Linked DNA regions of Homo sapiens. The protein of the gene in region 7 purifies or fractionates together with the protein of the main gene of each other region. This does not show direct contact. Each region holds a gene or a part of one and is shown on either strand. Other genes may lie near its edges. The genes, in order: RAB6B, CNNM1, FIRRM, ABCA2, TCTN2, NPC1 and DIPK1A.

Region 1 (3,500 bases), on a different chromosome or scaffold from region 7:
GGTGGAAGGGACACTATGTGACACTGGGGGCCCCAAAGCTCCAGGACTCAGTGCCCCACCCTAACTAGAGTGTCCTCATCAGGGCTTCACTCACTCCCATCTGTTCCCAGCCTCCCTTGGTGTGGGGCTGAAGCTGTCATGGTCCTTCCTGCTCCCTGGGGGCATGCAGGAGAGACTGGGCTGCTACTCTTTGGGAGCCCTAAAGTCATGGGAAGCAGGGAAGCAGAGGGAGGGCAGGGCAGCACCAGGAGGTCCATAGGGCAGGTAGCATCTGCCTCAGCCGTCAGGGTCAGGGAGGCACTGATGCCCCTACCCCCAGAGTGCTCTGGAACCCATGCAGTGGTTTAGCAGGAGTTAAATGTGGTCAGTTTCGAACCCTGTGTGGCTCAGAGGAGTGTCCATGCAGTGCAGACTCCTGGATCTAAATGTGAGCATATCCACTCACAGAAACCCATACCTGACCCTAGAAACCCATACCTGATCCTAGAGCACCCTTCAAAATCCCTAGTGGCATTTTGGCCACTAGTAGAGGCTGTGACTGTTTTGAGAGCCAGACAGGCAGATCAGAGCCGCCCAGGGCCAATGCCATGAAGGAAAGCTCAGGAAGGATGGCCTGGGCCCTTTTACCCTTGCCTACTAATGGCTACCCCACTGCAGAGCCTCCTCTGCAGCCCGCCCACAAGGGTCTCACACCATGCTGGGCCCACCAGCAGCTTCCCCCCTTGGGCCCTCATGGCCTTTAGCCCTGTCACCCAGCCCGGGTGCTCAGCTGGGGCTGGGCTCTGGGGTGAGGCCATGAATAAGACTCACCCTGTCTTCAGAGAGCTCATGCAGTGGAGGGTATGAGCCCAGAGCCCACCCAGTTCCTGCAATTCACATTTGTGAGGACAGCGGGAGTGCTCCTGGGTTAGTCCTTTCAGGCTACCGTAACAAATCACTATAGGCAGGGTAGCATATAAACAGCAGAAATGTATTGCTTACAGCTCTGGAGGCTGGGAACTCCATGGTCAAGGTGCAGGCATATTCAGTGTCTGGTGAGGGCCCATTTCCTCCTAGATGGCACCTTCCTGCTGCATCCTCACAAGGTGGAAGGGGCAGACAGGCTCCCTCGGGCCTCATTCATAAGGGCACTCATCCCGTTCATGAGGACTCTACCCTCCTGACTAAGCACCTCCTAAAGCCCCACCTCTTTATACTGTCACATTGGAGATTCTGTTTCAACATAGGAATTTGCAGGGGGACCGGCATTCAGAACCTAGCAGTTCAGAGTCTTCTGTGCCTCATACTTCTGCCTCGTACCTGTCACCTCCAAGATTCCATCTCTGCCAGCACCCCATCTGCCACTTGCCACCTGTCCCCTGCCACCCACACCTGCCCAAACACACACACACACACACACACACACACACAGAAAACCCACATGTACGCAGACACACACCTTACCAAGGACACACACTATGCACACATTCCCCCCACACTTACACAAACACACACATAAAGATGCCACACGTTCACACACACCACACTCAAACATTCCCCCATATGCTTACACAAACATACATGCACCTACCCACACGCACCACTCACAACACACACATTTTCCACGCAGTCCTACAGATAAAACACATACACTGTACACACACTCCTACACACAATAAACAACTCACACTCCTACACATCCAAACAAGCCCACAAAATTGTGTTCACACTCCTGCATCCCTCGCGCTCTCAGAGAAGCCTCACCACTGTGCCCATGCAGCCCTGGCCCTGCTGTTCGCTGCCTTGGCGCCGGACCTGCAGGGCTCCCCAAGCAGAGTCATTCATCTCAAGGGCAAGTCACTTCCCCATGCCTGGTCCCCATGAGGGCTGTTTGCAGAAGCCCACCTTAAGGCCTGTCACCCAGAGGCCCAAACCATTTTCTGCACCAGAGGAAGTCCCTTGCAGTCACTGCCATGACCTAAGCTCATCCCAGTGACCCTATGGCCAGTCTGCTTGGGTGAGAGGCCACAGCTTTGTTCCTTCCTTCCACAAGCTACTGAGGCCTGCCCAGACCCAATGCTGTGAGAGGTGGGGGAGAGAGAACATAGGCACAGCCCCTGCCTTTGAGGGCACCGTCCGCTGGGCAGATGGGAGAGTAAAGCTGCAGGTTGGGAGGGGAAGAGGGGTGAGGGTGCAGGTGCAGTGAGGAGCAGAGGGGAGGGCCAGGGTTGGGGTTCACACTGCATTTCTTCATCTTTCCAGCTTTTTCGACGTGTGGCGTCGGCTCTACCCGGAATGGAGAATGTCCAGGAGAAAAGCAAAGAAGGGAGTATCCTTTTCCTTTGACAAGTGAGTGAAAAGATGTATAGAAGCCATTTATTCACTGAATATGTTAGTGCAGTGGACAGACACTCGCCCAGTCCCCGCCCAGCCTTCCCTGGTCTGCCGCGAATGGCACGGGGCCTCCTCTAGGCGGGATGCAGCTGAACCCTATGGTTTGGAGCCCCCGTCTGGCTCTAACCATCTACTTCTTCTTCCAGAATAGCAGGAAGATACCAAAGGGGTGTGCACAGAGTGATGCTGTGGGGTGGGGAGTGAGAAACAGCGACTTTGCCCTTCTTTACAGCGAGCATGTTTATGGGTTTCATGAACACAGGCAGAGTCTCCACTGCAGGGAAGTCTCTGTCACTGGGGATATGATCTCAACGTGGTTCAGTCTACTCAAGACAGCTCCCCCCTTCAGACAGATGCCCCCTCCTTGTCCCGCCCACCTTCTCTACCCAGCCCTGAACAGCTCCTGAGGCTCCCCACTGATCTGTGGGACCATTGCGCATCACCCACAAACCAGCCCCAACCTGAAGAGACACCTAGATGCTGAAACTGAGGTTCAGAGAGGTAGTCTGGTTTGCCCAGTGTCACACAGCATGTAAGTTACAGTTAGGATTCACACTCAGGCTTGCTTCCTCCATATCCAGCCCTATTCCATGTGGGACACTGTCCCTCTAAGGGCATTTGAGAGAATCAGATGAAAACTGTTTCAGCAGGGGAAGCCATTGCCCACACCTGGGCCTCCCCTGCATCTAGTCAGATGTCCCTGCCTGAGTAAGCCACCAGAAAACAAGCATGCAGATCCCTGGCTGGCATCCTTTACAGTGGACCTGTCCCTACACAGCAGCTCTCCAACATCCCCCACTGATCCTATAGGCCTCTGAGGGTAGACATCCCTGACAGATCAAAGAAGGGCCCTGGGAAGATGGAAGGGCACCTTTGGGCTGATGAGAATCAAAAGCAAAAGAAGCACACAGCTTAATGTTGGAGGCCTCATGGAGCTGCTGGGGCAGGGCGGGCAGGACACCAGGAGTCCCAGGGCTGCAGCAAGGGGGAGCCTGACACAGGCCTGGAGGGAAGCTAGGCCTCTCCAGCCTTGCTCAAGGAGCTCTCAGAGCAGACTCGAGACCCACCCCCCGGGGGGGTCAGGAAGGCTCACCAAGGAGCAGGTGCCCCAGCAGTCCCACGGTCTG
Region 2 (3,500 bases), on a different chromosome or scaffold from region 7:
CCATGGCCTTTCCTCAGTGCCTGTCCACAGACAGCAAGAGGCTCTGGTCCTCTCTTCTTAGAAAGACATCAATCCTGTTGGATTAGGGCCCACCCTTATGCCATCATTTAATCTTAACTACTATACTTCCTTAGAGGCCTCTCTGGGTGTCGTTAGGGCTTCAACATATGAATTTTGTGGGAAGACAAACATTCAGTCCATAACAATCACCAAAGCTGGCCAAATAATTGGATGCCAATATTGCATCCAACTGCAGTCATGTCATTTTGGTCAATGATGGACTGCATGTATGATGGTGATCCCATAAGATTACATTGGAGCTGGAAAATTCCTGTCACCTAGTGATGTCCTAGCAGTCATAACACCTAACATCGTCCTAAGGCAACACATTACCTTTACTATGTTTAGATACGCAAATACTTACCATTGTGTTACAATTACCTACAGTATTTGGCACAGTAACATGCTCTACAGGTTTGTAGCCTAGGAGCAATAGATTATAACATATAGCCTATGTGTGTAGTACACTATATCCTCTAGGTTTTGTGTGACTACATTCTATGATGTTCACACAATCATGAAATTGCCTAGCAATGAATTTCTCAGAGAGTGTCTCCATAGTTAAGCAGTGCATGACGATTTCTTAAATCTGTACATAATTTAATCCACTATTTGTTCCACTTAGGTTATTCACTGATTTTATTCAACAAATAGTTGTGTTGGCACAGTGGAGAACATCATCAACATAGTCCTTGTCTCTATAGAGCTTCACTCTAATACAGGAAACAGAAATTAAACGAACAGGATAGTGATTAAGAACATAAGATTTGGCCAGGCGTGGTAGCTCACTCCTGTAATCCGAGCACTTTGGGAGGCCGAGACAGGTGGATCATTTGAGGTCAGGAGTTAGAGACCAGCCTGGCCAACACAGTGAAACCCCGTCTCTACTAAAAATACAAAAATTAGCCGGGCAGTAATGGTGCACACCTGTAATTCCAGTTACTCAGGAGGCTGAGGCAGGGAGGTTGCAGTAAGCCAAGATCATGCCACTGAACTCCAGTGGCAACAGAATGAGACCCTGTCTCAAAAAAAGAACATAAGACTTACTAGAATGCCTGGGTTGATACTGGCCCTGGGCAAATTACTTAACTGTTTATGTCTGTTTCATTAGCTGTAAAATGAAAATAATACTAATATTTACTCATAAGATTGTGTGAAATATTAAGACTATCGCATTATGCTTACTTACTACCTGTCATGTAAGTACTAAGTAGATGTTAGCTATGATTATTAAATATAAACACAAGTCTATTACTCATTTATGCAAATGCCTCCTAAGAAGTTACACTTTTTCACATTTTTGTCTCCCTCAAATTCGTTCTCTCTAGTGCCACTAAAATAATCTCCAGTAATGTCACTGCTTAAAACCCTTCAGCAGCTCCCCGCTGCCTACGGGAGAGAGGCTAAGCTGGTAAGGCAGCCAGCAATGCACTCATGACCTGCTTCTTGCCCTCCCCTCCAGCCTCATCGCTCACCACTCCCTGCCACAGCTTTACCCTCCAGCAATGCTGAACTCTGTGGTGCACTGTGCTATTCTTGCCTTTGTCCCTTTATTCACATTGCACTTCTGTCAGGAATATGCTTTGCCTGACTAATTCATTGCCAGCTCTTTGACACTCAGCTCAGGGGCCTCCTCCTCTGGGAGACTTCTCCTGTAAACCCCAAAATACAAAAATAGATTTTTTGGCCAGCTTCATTGTTTTATGTGCATATCTCAATCATTGAACTAACAAGCTGTACTACCAGTGTTTGTTTATAAGTGCCTCCCACCCATATAATGAGCATCTCCAGGGCAAAACTGTCTTATCTGTCTTTGTAGCTCCAGCAGCTAACGATGCATATGACACATAGTAAATTTTCAATGAATGTTTGTTTAAGGACTGAATGGATGACTTAAGGAGTTAAACTTTAATATAATGGAAGAGATCTGCAGAGCACTAGAAAATGAATTAAATCATTTTGGACTATGCAGCAGAACAAATCAAACTTATAAGTTTGTTAGTGTTAGAAGAAAAGTGTTGCATCTATTGTTTCTCAGCTTCTTTAGGTACATCTATTAATATTTATTACAACAATTTCTTTTCACATGTAAAGCACTGTGCTAAGAGTTAGGGGTATGAGATAAAATCTCTGTTCCCAAAGAGCCTAAAGCATAGTGGATGAATAGCACTTCCCTTTGCAAAGCTAGAAGGCAAGCTGGACACTCACCTTTCCCATGACTTCCAGTGACCTTGAATTTACAAGTCATGTCTCAGTATATAAGTACAGGATATGGGTAAGACAGACCTTGGTACATAAAGCATTAAAATGAAAGTGCTATACTAGAAATGCAAAAATGCAATGGGAACATGGAGGATACAATAACTATGACTAGGTGGCATTTTTTTTTTTTTTTTTTGAGATGGAGTCTCACTTTGTCGCCCAGGCTGGAGTGCAGTGGTGTGATCTCGCCTCCCAGGTTCAAGCGATTCTCCTGCCTCAGCCTCCCAAGTAGCTGGGACTACAGGCATGTGCCACCATGCCCGGCTAAATTTTTGTATTTTAGTAGAGACGAGGTTTCACCGTGTTGCCCGGGGTGGTCTCGAACTCCTGAGCTCAGGCAATCCGCCAACCTCGGCCTCCCAAAGTGCTAGGATTACAGGTGTGAGCCATTGCACCCAGTCATATTTTGCTTTTATAAATTTTTTACTGAAGTTTATGTTTCTATAATTTATACAGAAAAAAATTTAAATATAGAATAGTAGAAAAAAGAAGTATGAAAATCATATGAGGATAATCATCCCACTATCCTGAAATAGTAACTCAATATTTTGTCATATTAAAAATATATTGCACATAATAACAATCTTAATGAAATTCTTAAAAAGAAAACAAAAGGAAAAGCCCATTGTCCTGCCATCAAGCACAAATCAAATGTCCCATTCTAATCTTAAGAGTGATTTTCTTATAGGGTGGTATTTTTGCTATAGTTTCCTCAGGGTTGAGTGCTATAATTTGGGAAGACTAATTTTAAAAATGGAGCCGTAGAGATTTATCATACTTCTTAAATTTACTACTCTATTATTGGATTGCTTTTAGGAGACACTGAGTTCTGTATAGACAACAGGGGAAAGGAATAAAGCTTTGTTCTGAAGTCAAAGCTTCTGAGTAATACAGCACTGACTGACATTTAACTCAATTAAACAATTCAGCTTTGCTGGGCTAGTAACACCATCTTTGCAAACAAAAAAGCACAACCCACGTATGCTAGGCTGCTCCACCTGTACACTAGCATGGCTGTAACACAGCCTACTGCACAATCCATACTCAGTCTTTGCTTATTCATTGATTCATTCAGTAAACATTTTTTGAATTCCTGCTTTGGGCCAGGCATTACACTAGACTCTGGGAATACAGTGGTGAGCTAGGCAGACATTATGGAGCTAAAAATATCCTCTTCC
Region 3 (3,500 bases), about 77 Mb from region 7:
AGTAAATTCAGCATTCTGCCTATTTTAAAACAACTTTTTTTTTCTTTTTTGAGATGGAGTTTCGCTCTTGCTGTCTAGGCTGGAGTGCAATGGCGAAATCTCGGCTCACTGCAACCTCCACCTCCCAGGTTCAAGCAATTCTCCTGACTCCGCCTCCCAAGTAGCTGGGATTACAGGCATGTGCCACCATGCTTGGCTAATTTTGTATTTTTAGTAGAGACGAGGTTTCTCCATGTTTGTCAGGCTGGTCTTGAACTCCCAACCTCGCTTGCCTCGGCCTCCCAAAGTGCTGGGATTACAGGCGTGAGCCACCACACCCGGCATTTTTTTTTTTTTTTTCTGAGATAGAGTTTCACTCTGCCGCCCAGGCTGGAGTGCAGTGGCGCAGTCTTGGCTCACAGCAACCTCTGCCTTCTGGTTTCAAGTGATTCTCCTGCCTCAGCCTCCCGAGTAGCTGGGATTACAGGCATGCACCACCACAACCAGCTAATTTTTGTATTTTTAGTAGAGACGGGGTTTCACCATGTTGGCAAGGCTGGTCTTGAACTCCTGACCTCAGGTGATCCACCCGCCTCAACCTCCCAAAGTGCTGGGATTACAGGCATGAGCCACCACGCTCCGCCCAAAAACAACTTTTAATAGAAATAAGCTAGAATTTATCAGACATAGTCTTTTCAATATATATTTTTACTTTTGATTTAAGATTTAGATTTTTATAGTATTTTTAAGGATATTGTGAAAATGATATCAGTGCCTCAAAGCAACAAAGATTTCTCTAAGATTATCAACTTCTCATTTTATAGAATTATGGCTATGTTTAGTTTAGAGATCTTGATCCAATTCTGGTATCAATTCAGTACTTTGAATTTTGTTTTATAAAATGCACACTTATTTTTAAAAACTTAGTTTTTAATATATTTTTACTACCAGAACATCAGTTTATAGTACTTACTCTACCTAAAATTAGAAGATAGCTATTAATGAATGAGTTTTTTTTCTCTCCCTTCCCAGCAAGTTTCCTCCAAGCCTTTATGCTACCAGGATTTCTAAAGCACACCAAGAGGAAATAGCAGGTGCTTTCCTAGTGACACTGGATCCACTTATCAGTCAGCTGCTCACATTTCAGCCTTTCATGCAGGTGGTTTTGGACAGTAAATTAGGTAAGCTTCAAAATAGATTTAATGATAAATCATCTATTATGACATGTTAGAGACACTGATTTCCCCTAGCCATTCTTTTTTACAATTAAGAAATTTTTATTAAGTTTCTTTTACTTTCTTTTCTTGAAACATATTTCTTATTTAAAAATTATACCTGGCTGGGCACAGTGAATCACACCTGTAATCCCAGCACTTTGGGAGGCCGAGGTGGGCAGATCACCTGAGGTCAGGAGTTCAAGACCAGCCTGACCAATATGGTGAAACGCCATCTCTACTAAAAATACAAAAATTAGCTGGGTGTGGTGGCATGTACCTATAGTCCCAGCTACTCGGGAGGCTGAGACAGGAGAATCGCTTGAACCCAGACGGTGGAGGTTGCAGTGAGCTGAGATTACACCACTGCACTCCAGGCTGGGTGACAGAGTGAGACTCTGACTCAAACAAAAAAAAATTATTCCTTTACGTATTAATCAGATTTCTGCTGAATTAATGTGTTTTTATTACATGTAAGACCTGCCATGTGAACTGCAGTTTCCACAATGTCTTCTTCTGGTTGTTGTCATGGATAAGCTGCCATCTCAGCCTAAGGAAGTGCAAACCCTGTGGTGCACAGACAGCCAGGTCTCAGAAACGACAACCAGGTAGCAAACATGTTTTTATCCAGTCATATTACCAATGGTTAAGAAGGCCCTGTTGTTTGGAATGGTCTTGAAATTAAGTTTGTGTGTTTTTTTTTTAAATCAGATATTTATGTTAATAGTTATTGTGTAGACACACATATATATTGCTACTTTATAAAAGCAGATAAATATAAAATATATAAACCTATATTAGATGCTAAAAATATTTTAATATTTAATTTTGTTCAGTATTGCTTAATGGTCAGCATTATAAACATTGATTGTAATAGAGTAGCTATAAGTAGAAACATTTAAAAACGAGCTCTGATAAATAGAACACTAGACACTGTAAGGTATATCCTGGCAAATTTAACCTTTAATCATCTTCCTTGCCAACACCGTAGTCCAGGCTCTAGTTTCTTTCTTCCTGGATTACTCTGTGCTCTAATTTTTCACCTCTTCCTTTATCCCATTCTGCGTACCACGATGAGGTTAGTCTCCCTAAACCTGGCTCTGAGCTTCCTATTCTGCTCAAAAACTGAAACATAATGTTAGAACTTCTCAGCTTTGGATTTAAAGCCTGTCCCATACTATTGTCATCTTCTGCTTTTTCTCCTCATTCTTGTATTCATTTTCAACACATATTCCTTGCTTCTGTCACCCCCTTATTTGTGTGCTTTTACTCGTGCTTTTGTCTTCTTTACGTACTTACAATTTGAACAGTTTTGTTTTGTTTTTTTTTTGTTTGGAGCAGGGTCTTGCTCTGTCACCCAGGCTGGAGTGCAGTGGCATGACCATGGGTCACTGCAGCCTCAACTTCCTGGGCTCAAGTGATTCTCCTACCTTAGCCTCCTAAATAACTGGGACTAATGGTGTGTGCCAGCTGTCCTGGCTAATTTTTAAATTTTTTCTAGGGATAAGGTCTCACTATGTTGCCCAGGTCTTCCAACTCCTGGGCTCAAGTGATCTTCCCGCCTCGGCCTCCCAAAATGCTGGGATTACAGGCGTGAGCCACTACACCCTGCCCATAACTTGACTATTTTTAATTTGTTGTTTAAATCCTCTAAGTTTCTTCAACCATTTTAATCTTAAAATGACTCCTCGTCTGCTACTTATTTTCTGTTTTTCCATATAATATCTAATTTAGCTATTTAAGTTTCAAGTTCCTTGAGGAACTTTGACTTTGTGTAACTCAGTACCAAGATAAACAGTTGGTAAATGATGCAAAAAATGTCCAGGAAAATTCTCCTTTAAGGAATTTCTTTGACAGTGAATATATTTTCCTTTTATGTGTACATATTCACACGTGTTGGAAACTATTGCTGATTATACCTCTTGAAACATTTTCTGCTTAAACAACCTTCCATGTTACATATTATTATTATAATTGCTAATTAGTAAATGTTATTAATGTTGGGTTCAATGTTCTCAATTTCCCTGCAGGATATCTCTACTCAAAGCCGTTTTCTACAGTTTTGAGCAGTGTTCTGGTGAACTCTCTCTACCTGTTCATTTACAGGGATTAAAGAGTAAGGGGAAAGCTGAGGTGGCTGTCACCTTGTATCAGCATGTTTGTGTTCATCTGTGTACATTTATTACTTCCTTTCATCCCTCACTGTTTGCTGAACTGGTAAGCATATTACTTACTGTGCTAAGCTAAGGTTACACTTTTGCTTTCTCTTCATTGAAATTGTGATTCATATACAGAAGAAAATGTGGG
Region 4 (3,500 bases), on a different chromosome or scaffold from region 7:
GAAGTGAGCAAAGCACCTCTTTCTCACTCCACGCAGGTCCCACTAGGGCTCACCTTGGTGCCCAGCCTGGGTTAGCAGGAGCCGACCTGGGGAAACTGAGCTCCAAGGCCCAAGACTGGCTGCCCCGGGTCAGGAGAGGGGACAGGGCAGAAAGAGGTGCCTTTGGGCCAGGTGTGGTGGCTCACGCCCAGGTGGGCGGATCACGAGGTCAGGAGATCGACACCATCCTGGCTAACACGGTGAAACCCCGTCTCTACTAAAAATACAAAAAATTAGCTGGGCATGGTGGCGGGCGCCTGTAGTCCCAGCTACTCGAGAGGCTGAGGCAAGAGAATGGTGTGAACTTGGGGGACGGAGCTTGCAGTGAGCTGAGATCGCACCACTGTGCTCCAGCCTGGGTGACAGAGTGAGACTCCGTCTCAAAAAAAAAAAAAAAAAAAGGTGCCTTTGCTTCAGGGACTGGGGCTGTTAGACCCCTTACCAGGTCTTCTCCGAGGCTCAGGGCCCTGGGCGCAGGCCAAGCCTCTCAACCAGGCCTCCTCATCTCCCCAGGCCCCGGTATTGGTGGGGAGGAAGTGGGAGGAAGGTGAACCCGGGGCAGTGTGGGAAGTGTAGGCGGGGCTAGTGGCTCAGATGGTCCCCAAGATTTTGCCCAGGTAGCCCTGGAGGTGGGGAGGGAGAAGATGAGCTGGGATATACATGGGTCAGAGTAGACCACAAGCTGGCCGATTTGTCCCTGTAGGCCCTGAGGCTCCTCAGAGGGCACGTAGGCCCAGTGTGGGCTGGGGACGGGAAACCTGATTTGCTGAGCCAGACAATCCTTACCCTCAGTGCCCTGGAAGGGGCTCAGACCTTCAGTGGTTCCGAAGGGCCTGTGCCCACCTTCCCTGGCCCCAGGGAGCACGTGGTCCTGTCTGGGCTGGGCCAGCCCTATGGGAGGCTGGGGAGGGCCTAGGCGAGCACAGGTCTGTCCTATCCCTCACTGGGCCCACCCTTTCCAGTGGGTCCTGGCCTTCGAGATCTTCATCCCCCTGGTGCTGTTCTTTATCCTGCTGGGGCTGCGACAGAAGAAGCCCACCATCTCCGTGAAGGAAGGTGAGTGCGGCAGGAGGCCCCAGGCACAGCCGGGGGAGCGCGGCACCTCGCACGCCTGCGCTGTGTGTGCACATCTGCACACGGGTGTCCTGCTCCCGGAGTCCCTGAGGTGCGGTGCCTGCTCCCCTGTGTGGTCCTGGGCCGTGCCTCCTGGCTGGGCTGTGGAGGTCGGGGCTGGCCTGTGGCCGCGAATGATGATGCCAACGCCTCTTCCTGGTGATGTGGGCACTCACTGGTCTCCTCTGTTCTGTTTTGATCCCCCTCCCTCCCCGCATGGTCTCTTGTCCTCGGCTGGCATGCAGTCTGTAAGTGAGCGGCCACCTCCTCCTGGCTGGCCTGGGCAGCAGCTGCGGGGGGCCCATGGGCCGTCCTGGCTTGAGCGCCCTCCCCGCTTGCATTAACAGCCCTCCCGGGCCCCCTGCCGGCCTCAGGAACAGCTGGCTCCAGATGGGGGGTGGCAGGCAGTGAAGTGGGAGGTGGTAGGGAGTGAAAGGCCCGGCCACCTAAAGGCACAGCTGGTGCCTGGGTCAAGCTGAGGCGGCATCTCTCTGCCTGGCCTTGCCTTCTAGGGCTGGGGTGCCTCGGCTTCTGGGCTGAGTCTGGGCTGAGGCTGGGCTGGCCTGGGCTGGGGCTGGAGCGGCCTGGCTACTCTCCCTTCATACTCCTTCAGGCTCTTGCACTCACTCTGCTAACCAGCTGGCCAGAGGTCAGAGGTCACTGCCCAGAGGGGGTCCTTTGTCCTCCCCTGGGCTCTGTAGGCAGTGCCACACCTGAAACGTTTTCGGGGGGAGAGTGCCAGGGCATGTGGGCCTGCACTGGCTGAAAGGAAAGGAATGCTCTGGGAGTTATGGCAGAAGGGGTGGTGAGTGGCTCTTTGACCTCTGACCTGCTGGAGTCATTCGCCCCAGAACGCTTGGCCTGTAGCCCAGCTGGGGCCAGGGCTCTGTGCCGCCTTCTCCCTAACGCTGCTTCTCCTTCCTGACTTTCTCTAAATTTCTCCTCTCGGCCTCTGTCTCCCTCCCCTTCTGGATTCCTCTCTCTCTCTCTCCCCTTTCACCCCCGACCCTGCCCTCTCCCGTGGGTCTGCCAGCCTTCTACACAGCGGCGCCCCTGACGTCTGCCGGCATCCTGCCTGTCATGCAATCGCTGTGCCCGGACGGCCAGCGAGACGAGTTCGGCTTCCTGCAGTACGCCAACTCCACGTGAGTGCCCACCCGCCCCTCGGAGCACCCACCCCTCCCCAGCCCATCCAGTGAGTGACATCCGCCATGGTGCAGGGTCACGCAGCTGCTTGAGCGCCTGGACCGCGTGGTGGAGGAAGGCAACCTGTTTGACCCAGCGCGGCCCAGCCTGGGCTCAGAGCTCGAGGCCCTACGCCAGCATCTGGAGGCCCTCAGTGCGGGCCCGGGCACCTCGGGGAGCCACCTGGACAGATCCACAGGTGTGCCCTGTGCAGGGAAGTTGGGGGGCAGGGCTGCGGGCAAAGCTCTGCTGTCACTGGGCTGAAGCCCACATCCACTCTGGGCCCCTCCACCTGCACTGAGTTCCCAGCCACGCACAGGCTGCAGTGGCAGAGCTGTGGTGTTGGGCTCGGCTCCGAGCGCATGTGGGGGCACCTTGCCAAGGTGCAGCGGCCTCTCAGCCTCGCCTTCCTGCCTGTCCAGTGTCTTCCTTCTCTCTGGACTCGGTGGCCAGAAACCCGCAGGAGCTCTGGCGTTTCCTGACGCAAAACTTGTCGCTGCCCAATAGCACGGCCCAAGCACTCTTGGCCGCCCGTGTGGACCCGCCCGAGGTAAGGCAGGGACAGCTCCCAGCCCTGGCCACTCCCTTCTGCCCCAGCCACGCCCCCTGGTTGCTGAGCCATCCTCAGGATGCTCAGCCTGAGTCACGCCCAGACCGTCTGAACCTTGCCCCCACCATCTGAGCCACGCCCCCACTCTCTGAGCCATGCCCCCACCATCTGAGCCACGCCCCCACACCTACATCGGAGCCACGCCCCCACCATCTGAGCCACGCCCCCACTCTCTGAGCCACGCCCCCACCATCTAAGCCACGCCCCCACACGTCCATCGGAGCCACGCCCCCACCATCTGAGCCACGCCCCCCACACCCCATCTGAGCCATTCCCCCACACCTCCTAGGTCTACCACCTGCTCTTTGGTCCCTCATCTGCCCTGGATTCACAGTCTGGCCTCCACAAGGGTCAGGAGCCCTGGAGCCGCCTAGGGGGCAATCCCCTGTTCCGGATGGAGGTGAGGGCATCCATGTGTGGGATGGGCCTGGAGTGCTGCCTGCCTCTGGGGGTGCTTCTGCTCCGTGGGTGAGGAAAGGGCCCCTTTGGTGACTTGGAGCTCCTCCTGGGAGAGGGGGAGGGTCCCAGGGGTCTATGGCAGGCATGAGGGGTA
Region 5 (3,500 bases), on a different chromosome or scaffold from region 7:
TGTCCAAGTTTTTGCGTAGATGTGTGTTTTTATTTCTTTTGGGTAGACACCTAGGAGTGGAACTGACAGGTCATGCTAATATGACTTCTTGAGGACCCACCAAATTGTTTTTTTTTTGTTTTTTTGGTTTTTTTTTTGAGAGGGAGTCTTGCTCTGTCACCCAGGCTGGAGTGCAGTGACGTGATCTCGGCTCGCTGCAACCTCCACCTCCCTGGTTCAAGCGATTCCCCTGCCTCAGCCTCCCAAGTAGCTGAGATTACAGGCATGTGCCACCACACCTGGCTAATTTTTTTTTTTTTGAGACCAAGTCTTGCTCTTGTCCGCCAGGCTGGAGTGCGATGGCGCGATCTCGGCTCACGGCAACCTCCACCTCCTGGGTTCAAGCGATTCTCCTGCCTCAGCCTCCCGAGTAGCTGGGATTACAGGCACCCACCACCACGCCCTGCTAATTTTTGTATTTTTAGTAGAGACGAAGTTTAGTAGAGATGGGATTTCACCATGTTGGCCAGGCAGATCTCGAACTCCTGACCTCAGGTGATCCACCCACCTCGGCCTCCCAGAGTGCTGGGATTACGGGCATGAGCCACCACGCCCGGCTAATTTTTTTGTATTTTTAGTAGAGAGGAGGTTTCACCATGTTGGCCAGACTGGTCTCAAACTGACCTCAGGCAATCTGCCTGCCTCGGCCTCCCAAAGTGCTGGGATTATAGGCGTGAGCCCCTGCGCCTGGCCAATTGTTTTCTACAGTGTCTGCACCATTTTGTATTGCCACCAGCAGTGAACTGCATATTTGTTTTTATGTCACAGTGACCCTGGTTTTTGTTTGTTTGTGTGTTTGTTGTGGATTTTCTTCCTCCGTTATAATTAGATGCTAAGAGGATGGGGACTCCTATCTGATGGTTTTTGGGGAGTGGGGAGGGTTTTGTAGTCAGCACCCTGGGCAGTTGCGGTCACCATATTTGCTTTGTAAGCTATACTTTGAGTAAGTGTGATCATGGTAGGCCATGTGTACGCCTGTGGAAGTTAATTTATGTTATCTCTTTAGGCATAGTTACACCAAAAGTGATCTATGAGGAAGCAACTGACCTAGACAAATTCATCACCAATACAGGTATTTAATGTTACACTTTGACGTCATTTCTTCAGAAACAGATATGTCATTTCTTACAAGTAATATATACCCTCAGAGTGTATATTTTTGTTAGTCATTTAAAAAGGTTCACAATAGTTAGAAAGATCTGCCAGGAACATTTCATTTGTTCCTCGTTCTGTCCTGCTGGGCTTTAGAGTGCTCTCTGTGACCTTGAGCCTGCTCCTCCACAGTCCTGGATTCTCTGAGTTCCACCGACCCTTCTAGTTCCAGCTTCCGTGAACCTTTCCTTAAATGTTTGATAGTTAAATAATTCTTTTTTTTTTTTTTTTTTTTTTTTTGAGGCGGAGTTTTGTTCTTGTCACCCAGGCTGGAGTGCAATGGCATGATCTCGGCTCACTGCAACCTCCGCCTCCTGAGTTCAAGTGATTCTCCTGCCTCAGCCCCCTGAGTAGCTGGGATTATAGTCACCCGCCACCACACCCAGCTAATTTTGTATTTTTAGTAGAGACGGGGTTTCTCCCTGTTGGTCAGGCTGGTCTCGAACTCCCGACCTCAGGTGATCCACTTGCCTTGGCCTCCCAAAGTGCTGGGATTATAGGTGTGAGCCACCGCGCCCGACCAGTTAAAAGAACTTTTTAGGGCACAGCATTTTCACTTTTTGCTTTCTTTCCTTTTTTTTTTTTTTTTTTTTTGATAATTAAACTTTCCAATTGTGATGCAGCCAAATAAGTTACGTAGAGTTTGGCAGATTTTTTTTTTTTTTTTGAGATGGATTCTTGCTCTGTCACCCAGGCTGGAGTGCAGTGGTGTAATCTTGGCTCACTATAACCTCCACTTCCTGGGTTCAAGCAGTTCTCCTGCCTCAGTCTCCCAAGTAGCTGGGATTACAGGTGTTCACCACCATATGCCTGGCTAATTTTTGTATTTTAGTAGAGACGGGGTTTCACCATGTTGGCCAGGCTGGTTTCGAACTCCTGACCTCAGGTGATCCACCTGCCTTGGCCTCCCAAAGTGCAGGGGTTACAGGCGTGAGCCACGGCGACTGGCTCAGTTTGGCTAATTTTACCAGAACTTTAGTTTTTAATGAAGGATACTGTTTGTTTCTTTCTTTTCTTTTTTTTTTTTAATTGGAGACAGAGTCTTGCTCTGTCGCCCAGGCTGGAGTGCAATAGGGTGATCTCAGCTCACTGTACCCTCCACCTCCCAGGTTCAAGCAATTCTCATGCCTTAGCCTCCTGAGTAGCTGGGATTACAGGCACCTGCCACCAATCCCGGCTAATTTTTGTATTTTTTTGTATTTTTTTTTTTTTGAGACAGTCTCACTGTCACCCAGACTGGAGTGTAGTGACACAGTCTCCACTCACTGCAACCTCTGCCTCCTGGGTTCAAACGATTCTTCTGCCTCAGCCTCCCGAGTAGCTGGGATTACAGGTGCCTGCCCCCATGCCTGGCTGATTTTTTGTATTGTTAGTAGAGAGGGGGTTTCACTGTGTTGGCCAGGCTGGTCTTGAACTCCTGACCTCGTGATCTGCCTGCCTCAGCCTCCCAAAGTGCTGGGATTACAGGCGTGAGCCACCGCACCCGGCCTAATTTTTGTATTTTTAGTAGAGACAGGGTTTCGCCATGCTGGCCAGGCTGGTCTCGAACTCTTGACCTCAGGTGATCTGCCCACCTCGGCCTCCCCAAGTGCTGGGTGTCTCTTTCTGATGTGTTGTACTTCTCAAATTTATTCATTGGCTCATCAAATGTTAGTGGAGTTCCTACGCCGTAGTAGGGAACTAGATAGCGGGCCCCTGCCCTGGCGGAACTGACCCTCTGGTCTTTCATCTCACAAACATTTTACCAAGTGCATGCTCCATGGCAAGCTATGAGCCAGGTGCTGGAGATATAGAAATGAAAGGAACAGATCTCATTCTGGGTACTGTGATGGCATAGAGGAGGCAGCTAATGCTGACTTGGTGGGACCAGGGCAGGCTTCCTCAAGGAAGCAGTGACCGTGCCATGTTAGGGAGCTGGAGATAGGGAGGGCAGGGGCAGGGCACTTGGGGAAGGCCACGCAAGCAGAGAGAACCTCCCAGTAACAGAGTCAGGCTCAAAGAGGGTCTTTAATTTATGAACATATTCTTGTATTTGCAGAAACTCCTTTAAATAACGGATCAACCCCTAGAATTGTGAATGTGGAAGAACATTATATTTTCAAATGGAATAATAATACCATCAGTGAAATAAATGTTAAAATTTTTAGGGCAGAGATTAATGCCCACCAGAAAGGTAACTTTGATGAGGGTAGCAAGCATGCTTTCACTGAAAAGTATTTTTTTTTCCTCTTTTCAAGATTCTCATAATTATAACCCATAAAACTAAGTTGGACTTGTTTCTTATGTGCATTTATGATTTAATTAACGAG
Region 6 (3,500 bases), on a different chromosome or scaffold from region 7:
TGATGATGACCGGAAGTCTCTGGCCTTGATTTGGAAGCTTTGGGAGGTGGAAGATGAGTATCCCCATGTATGTTAGGTAAACCCTGAACTTAGGTTTTTCATAAGAACATACATCTGACCAGAGTCATATCAGTGAATCATTTATATCATGCATGTGCTTTGAGACCTATTCGAGGTATCATGGGATGACTCCTCCTAAAAGTTAAGTAGAAATGAATCTTGCAGCTTGATTTACTCACTGACTGGATGCTTTGGCCTACGTAAAATAAGTTGAAGTAGATTCAGTTTTTCTGAAGGCAGTAGCCACCGTTCCTGGGGAGCCTCCAGGGTGCCAGCGTCATGCCAGGCACTCCCTGACATTATTCCATTTCTCATCACGCAGCCTATGAGTAGGTGGTGGTATACCCATTTACAGAAGAGGAGACTGGGGCTCAGAGGTGGTCATTTTGCTCGGGGTTACATGACCAGTAAGTGGCAGGGCTGAGGTTGTTCCCAGGGCCCTTGCCCTTTCCTGCTTCCTATTACACAACAGGACTGAGTAAACCCTGTACCTTTGATTATACATGAAACCAGGTGGAGAAACAGCAGCTATGTACCAAAGAACCCAGAGCAATCGAGAAAAGCCCATCTGGCCAGGCGAAGTGGCTCACACCTGTAATCCCAGTACTTTTGGAGGCCGAGGTGGGCGGATCACCTGAGATCACCTCAGGAGTTCAAGACTAGCCAGGCCAACATGGCAAAACCCTGTCTCTACTAAAAAAATACAAAAGTTAGTTGAGCGTGGTGGCAGGTGCCTGTAATCCCAGCTATTCGGGAGGCTGAGGCAGGGAGAATTGCTTGAACCCGGGAGGTGGAGGTTGCAGTGAGCCGAGATCACGCCACTGCACTCCAGCCTGGGCTACAGAGCAAGACTCTGTCTCAAAATAAAAAAAAAAAGAAGCCAGTCTGGGAGAGAACAAGCTAAACCTTTGGTGTTCCCTTATCTGGGGGCCTTCTTCATCCCTGAAATGTACAGCTGGGTCTGACCTCTGAGTCCAGGGTCAGGTGATTTTGCTTAGCCTCAAGTGCTCAGATTCTGCTGATATTTTGCAAGACCTGGACTCTCTTGACACCCAGGATTCTTTCCTCAGGGGACATGCTGCCTATAGTTCTGCAGTTAACATCCTCCTTGGCCATGGCACCAGGGTCGGAGCCACGTACTTCATGACCTACCACACCGTGCTGCAGACCTCTGCTGACTTTATTGACGCTCTGAAGAAAGCCCGACTTATAGCCAGTAATGTCACCGAAACCATGGGCATTAACGGCAGTGCCTACCGAGTATTTCCTTACAGGTAAAGCCTGCCCTTTTTCAATGGGGTTTACCCAGCAAAGGGCCTACACTGGGTGGGAGTGGGGAGGGTTCCCTTGGCAAGATGCTGATTTTCAGGTTGGGTTCTGGCCCCTGCTCCATTCTGAGCACAGGGCAGTATATCAAAGGAAATGGGTGCTGGGCAAAGGAGTTCAGAATCTAAAGTCTCTGTGAAGGCCTGAGGGCTAGAGACGCAAAACTTGATCTCTGCGCCACTGCACAGCTGCAAGAGACACACACTGGAAAATGGCTTAAGGCAGGGGGCGCTTGGAGAGCAGGCGGCTCAGAGCAGGGCCCGGCCCACATTCTTGGCCAACAATGAACCAGAATCCCTAACTGCTGGTTATTTGGGATGCTGCCTGTATGTAGACTTTTTATATTGTTAGGGGTTTTTTTTCCCAGGAAGAAAAGTATTATGTATGAACTACTGAATTTAGAAACTGTAGAAAGGTAGGAGAAACAAGTGATTTATTTTTCCTGCCTCCCCATGATCTCGCTTAAAGCAGGAAGGCCTGGATTTGTTTGGAAGAAGTTAAGAGCCGGTTAGCTCTGGCAGAAAATAAATGAAAGCATGTTTTCCTCAGGCCTTGCACGGACCCCGCTGAGCCTGAGGTAGTGTCTCAGGATAGATCAGGATTCTTTGTTTTTTTGTGTTTTTTCAGAATGCTGTGGAATGCTCTCTGTAAATGTCTATAAAATAGCATAGATTGGGCTTATAAACAGAAACTTTATCAAAAATATACATTTTGCATCACTGCTGGGCCCTTCTCTGGGTGGTCAGTGGCCATGAGAGGTCAAGTGAGTTGCTTTCGGTGAGTCTTGTAGACAGCCAGCAAGGTTTTCTGCAAGGGATGTTTCCCAAAGGAGTCTGACCACTTGGCAGTGGTGACAGGATGAACACGCAGTGTTCGGGAGTGAGAGCGAGCTTTAATGAGGCCTCCCCTCTCCCCTCCAGTGTGTTTTATGTCTTCTACGAACAGTACCTGACCATCATTGACGACACTATCTTCAACCTCGGTGTGTCCCTGGGCGCGATATTTCTGGTGACCATGGTCCTCCTGGGCTGTGAGCTCTGGTCTGCAGTCATCATGTGTGCCACCATCGCCATGGTCTTGGTCAACATGTTTGGAGTTATGTGGCTCTGGGGCATCAGTCTGAACGCTGTATCCTTGGTCAACCTGGTGATGGTGAGTCCTCATACAGTCTCAGTTTGTCCCTAGCTCCTGTTTCACTTGGGGGAATTGGCTGTCTTAGATTCCATGTAAACCCTAAAGATGGAGTAAGATACCAAGTCTGGCGCTTGCTCTTGGCACACATGGAGAGGCAGGATGAGTGCTGGAGGAGTGCTGGATGGTGGTGGGACAGGGCATAGAGGGAGCGAGCATTGAGTTGGACATCTGGGAGCATAGGCACATTACAGGCAATTTCTGTTCAATTTTTTCTCTTGTCCCATTCCTTGCGGCTATACTAGTATACCTGATGGTGCCTCTGACCATGGAAATGTGATTTCCTGGCCTAGTTCTGGGCTAGTCTGCCTGTAATTTGTTATTCTTTAGAGATTGCACAAGCCTGTAGCCTGATGACAGCAGGATGTTCACTTTTTACTTAGAAAATTGCACCCCGCCCCAGGAGCTCTCCGACCAGTGCCTTTTGCCTCCTATGTGGTTATCAGGTACTTTTAATCATTAAAGATGAGAGCACTTGAGAAGGTATTCATGGAAAATAGAACAGTGTATCCGTACTCTCAGATATGAGCCCTGCTTCAGATAGGGGAGCACTGAGGTCCAAGAAAAGAAGTTGTGACAATGCGCCAGCTCGGTGCGGGTGGGGTGACCTTAACGGGTTCCAGCAATTTCTCCTGGTCAACACAAACGTGCCACAGAAAACCAGGCTTTTGGCTGTGTGTAGAGAGGGCCCCAAAAAGTTCCTGGTACAGTAAGATTGGTGTGATGGAGGCCTTGTAAGTCCAATGGGATGCTTGGCCTCCTCTAGCACCCAGGGTGCCCTGGGTAATTAGCACCCATCCTCAGAACGGGGTGGCTGCCTAGGGTCTTCAACAGGAAGAGAGCCATCCTAAAGGAAGTGCTTTATTTCAGAGCTGTGGCATCTCCGTGGAGTTCTGCAGCCACATAACCAGAGCGTTCACGGT
Region 7 (3,500 bases):
ATACAAACAGCCGGGCCCGTGGCACGGGCCTGTAATCCCAGCACTTCAGGAGGCCAAGGTGGGTGGATTGCTTTAGTCCAGGAGTTTGAGGCCTACCTGAGCAACATAGCAAAACCCTGTCTCTACAAAAAATACAAAAATTAGCTGGGTGGCCAGGCACAGTGGCATACACCTGTAATCCCAGCACTTTGGGAGGCTGAGGCGGTAGGTCACTTGAGGCCAGGCATTCAAGACCAACCTGAGCAACATTGCGATACCCCCTCTCTACTAAAAACACAAAAAATTAGCCGGGTGTGGTGGCACATGCCTGTAATCCCAGCAACTCCAGAGGCTGAGGCACAAGAATCGCTTGAACCTGGGAGGCGGAGGTTCCAGTGAGCCAAGATCTCACATCACTGCACTCCAGCCTGGACAATAGAGCGAGACTGTCTCAAAAAATATATATGTATTAGCTGGGTGTGGTGGCACACACCTATGGTCCCAGCTACTCGGGAGGCTGAGGTGGGACAATCACTTGAGCCCAGGAGGTCAGGGCTGCAGTGAGCCGTGTTCATGTCACTGCACTCCAGCCTGGGTGACAGAGTGACACCCTGTCTCAAAAAAAAAAAAAAAAACAAAAAAAAACCAGACAAGATTGCTTCCCTTACAGACCTTACATGATTCCAGAGGGACAGGAGGTACAAACAGTTGATAAATAAATAAATAAACAAACAAAATAATTGTAGAATATGGTGTGTTCTGTAGGAGACACAGAGGGCAAATTGATAGAGAATGCAGTGTAAGGGATGGTGAGAAGTGCTTTAGAGGATGTGATCAGAGAAGACCTTTCTGAAATAATATTTGAACTTATACCTTAATAAAAAATTCATAGGCATGGGAAAAGGACAGGATGAACTAAATCACAAAAGAACTGCAAACAGCTGATGAACATAATGAAAAAAAATTCTACCTTACTTTTCATCAGAGAAATAAGAATAAAACAGTAGAATATCTAATTGGGGTAGAAGAAAATACAACGAAACATCTGGAGCAGTGGAAAATTGCATTTTAATGTTCATCTTATGGTTCCTAAATTTTCCTATATAAATATGCATTATTATTATAGAAATTTAAACTAATTTTTCAGTTGACAGTATTAATCATGTTAAAGACAATTTCTAAAACAAAGTCCAACATTTGAGTGTCTCCTGCATGCCAGGCACTGTTTGAGGCACTGAGGGAGACAGATAAAGCCTCTGGCCTCATGTTCTAATGTGAGATGAGACAGATAGTAATGAACTGATAAATAAATAAATATGATAATTTTAGACAGTGCAAAAGGCTATGAGGATAATGAAACAGGGTTAGAGGTGACCTGGGGGTGGAAGAGGATCTCTTCTAGACAGGGGGTCAGGGAAGGCTTTCTAAATGCAATGTCTAATCTGAGACTTGAATGATGTAAAGGAGCCAGCCATGTGAAGATCTGGGAGAGTACATTCCAGGCAGAGCCAGCAGCAAGTGAAGCAGGTCAGGAAGCAGAAACAAGCTTCAACCTGTCACAGAAAGACCAGTGTAGCTGGGACTTTGAGAAACGGAGTACGTGGTACAAGATCAGGTTGGAGACATAGGCGAGGCTAGCTCAAATGGAGCCCAACCGGTCATGGAAAGGACTTTGGACTTTAATTGAAAGGGGAATTTATTAGAGGGTTTGGAGCAAGGCAGTGAAATAATGTTTTCTTTGGATTAATATTAAGAATGAATATGATCTTATTTATTTTTTTATGTAGAAGAGGGGCAACCTATCCTAGTGGTAAAGACCTCAGCTCTTTTCAGCATGTTACTTCACCTGTATCTGCTTCAGTTTCCCCATCAGTGAAATAAGTATAATGATAGTACCTACCACCTAAGATTGGTACAAGGATTAAAATAATAACATAAATCAGTAAAAGCCAGGTGTGGTGCCTCATACCTACAATCCCAGCAACTTGAGAGGCTGAGGCAGGTGGGTCACTTAAGGCTAGCAGTTCAGGACCAGCCTGAGCAATACAGCAAGACCCCATCTCTACAAAAAATGTTTTTAATTAGCCAGGTTTAGTGGTACATGCCTATAGTCCTGGCTACTTGGGAGACTGAGGCAGGAAGATTCCTTGAGCTCAGGACTTTGAGGCTGCAATGAGCTATGATTATGCCACTGAACCCCAGCCTGGGTGACAAAGCAAGACCCTGTCTCTAAAATAAATTAGTAGACCATAGGACATAGTTAACACTATATAATATTAGTTTGATAAATAACTAGATACTTAAATAGTAGTTAATTCTGGGGAAGTGGGATTATGGAAGTAGAATGTCTGGGAACTTTGCTTTTGCCTTACATCCTTCTCATTGGACTTTTTGAAAAATATATTTAGGCATGCATTACTCTTATAATTTAAAAAATTAGTTTAAGGAAAAAATCTTGAGTGTGATTTCAAGTTTGCAGTTCAGAAATAAAGTCACACCTTAACCTCAATGTTTGATGCTTGTTTTGTTTTGTTCAGAGGAGGAGGACCCTAAAAATATAGTAGTATATTTTTTAGAGTTTTCTACTCAGTATAATACATAACTTGCCACTCTTTTTTACATAGATGTATTTAGGGATTTGGGATAATCTACCAGGTGTTGTGAAATGTCAAATGGAACAAGCGCTTCATCTTGATTTTGGAACTGAATTGGAACCAAGAAAAGAAATAGTGCTATTTGATAAGCCAACTAGAGGAACTACTGTACAAAAATTTAAAGAAATGGTCTATAGTCTCTTTAAGGTAAGCATACCCATTCATATGTTGCTAGTGTGAAGTGGGACTCTTTAGAGGAATTGGCAGGACCTCATCCTAAGCCATTAAAGTGTTGATATTCTTTGACCTCTATCAGATTCTCCATCCTGAGGAAATAATTATAAGAGGCCGGGCGTGGTGGCTCACGCCTGTTATCCCAGCACTTTGGGAGGCCAAGGCAGGAGGATCACTTGAGCCCAGGAGTTCAAGTCCAGCCTGGGCAACATAGTAAGACCTCAGCTATATATATATATATATACACGTATATATATATATACGTGTGTGTGTATATATATATATATATATACACACATATATATATACACACATATATATATATATATATATATATATATATATATATATATATATATATATGCCAGGAGTGGTGGCATGTGCCTGTAGTCCTAACTACTTGAGATGCTGAGGTGCGAGGATTGCTTGAGCCTGGGAGGTCGAGGTTGCAGTGAGCCAAGATCTCACCACTGCACTCCAGCCTGGACGACAAAGTGAGACCCTGTTTCAAAAAAAAAAAGAAAAAGAAAAGAAATCTGTGTTGGAGAATGTTTACTTTAACATTATTTATGATAGCTAAAAATGTCCAGATATGAGGAGGGAGTTCATTAATTAATTGGAGTGCTGTACAGTTTGACATGAAAATTAATTCAAAAAAGGTGAAATAAAATGAGTATACTCTTAGAATTGTGG

Evidence for each region.
Region 1: the proteins of DIPK1A (region 7) and RAB6B purify together in Homo sapiens (affinity purification with mass spectrometry; one large-scale study listed by BioGRID and IntAct). This does not show direct contact.
Region 2: the proteins of DIPK1A (region 7) and CNNM1 purify together in Homo sapiens (affinity purification with mass spectrometry; one large-scale study listed by BioGRID and IntAct). This does not show direct contact.
Region 3: the proteins of DIPK1A (region 7) and FIRRM purify together in Homo sapiens (co-immunoprecipitation; one large-scale study listed by IntAct). This does not show direct contact.
Region 4: the proteins of DIPK1A (region 7) and ABCA2 purify together in Homo sapiens (affinity purification with mass spectrometry; one large-scale study listed by BioGRID and IntAct). This does not show direct contact.
Region 5: the proteins of DIPK1A (region 7) and TCTN2 purify together in Homo sapiens (affinity purification with mass spectrometry; one large-scale study listed by BioGRID and IntAct). This does not show direct contact.
Region 6: the proteins of DIPK1A (region 7) and NPC1 purify together in Homo sapiens (co-immunoprecipitation; one large-scale study listed by IntAct). This does not show direct contact.

Annotation. Positions count from the first base shown.
Region 1 is NC_000003.12:133,833,383-133,836,882, reverse strand, and holds part of RAB6B (ras-related protein Rab-6B), read left to right. Parts: intron 1-2,241; coding exon 2,242-2,308; intron 2,309-3,500. UniProt on the Homo sapiens protein: The small GTPases Rab are key regulators of intracellular membrane trafficking, from the formation of transport vesicles to their fusion with membranes. Rabs cycle between active GTP-bound and inactive GDP-bound states.
Region 2 is NC_000010.11:99,335,856-99,339,355, forward strand, and holds part of CNNM1 (metal transporter CNNM1), read left to right. Parts: intron 1-3,500. UniProt on the Homo sapiens protein: Probable metal transporter.
Region 3 is NC_000001.11:169,826,040-169,829,539, forward strand, and holds part of FIRRM (FIGNL1-interacting regulator of recombination and mitosis), read left to right. Parts: intron 1-53; exon of another isoform or gene 54-176; intron 177-1,011; coding exon 1,012-1,160; intron 1,161-1,671; coding exon 1,672-1,801; intron 1,802-3,223; coding exon 3,224-3,410; intron 3,411-3,500. UniProt on the Homo sapiens protein: Regulates PLK1 kinase activity at kinetochores and promotes faithful chromosome segregation in prometaphase by bridging kinase and phosphatase activities.
Region 4 is NC_000009.12:137,021,738-137,025,237, reverse strand, and holds part of ABCA2 (ATP-binding cassette sub-family A member 2), read left to right. Parts: intron 1-1,001; coding exon 1,002-1,095; intron 1,096-1,397; coding exon 1,398-1,400; intron 1,401-2,185; coding exon 2,186-2,297; intron 2,298-2,372; coding exon 2,373-2,536; intron 2,537-2,759; coding exon 2,760-2,887; intron 2,888-3,236; coding exon 3,237-3,347; intron 3,348-3,500. UniProt on the Homo sapiens protein: Probable lipid transporter that modulates cholesterol sequestration in the late endosome/lysosome by regulating the intracellular sphingolipid metabolism, in turn participates in cholesterol homeostasis.
Region 5 is NC_000012.12:123,691,613-123,695,112, forward strand, and holds part of TCTN2 (tectonic-2 isoform 1 precursor), read left to right. Parts: intron 1-1,045; coding exon 1,046-1,111; intron 1,112-3,229; coding exon 3,230-3,364; intron 3,365-3,500.
Region 6 is NC_000018.10:23,534,507-23,538,006, reverse strand, and holds part of NPC1 (NPC intracellular cholesterol transporter 1 precursor), read left to right. Parts: intron 1-1,130; coding exon 1,131-1,334; intron 1,335-2,306; coding exon 2,307-2,538; intron 2,539-3,447; coding exon 3,448-3,500. UniProt on the Homo sapiens protein: Intracellular cholesterol transporter which acts in concert with NPC2 and plays an important role in the egress of cholesterol from the endosomal/lysosomal compartment.
Region 7 is NC_000001.11:92,846,463-92,849,962, reverse strand, and holds part of DIPK1A (divergent protein kinase domain 1A), read left to right. Parts: intron 1-2,603; coding exon 2,604-2,780; intron 2,781-3,500.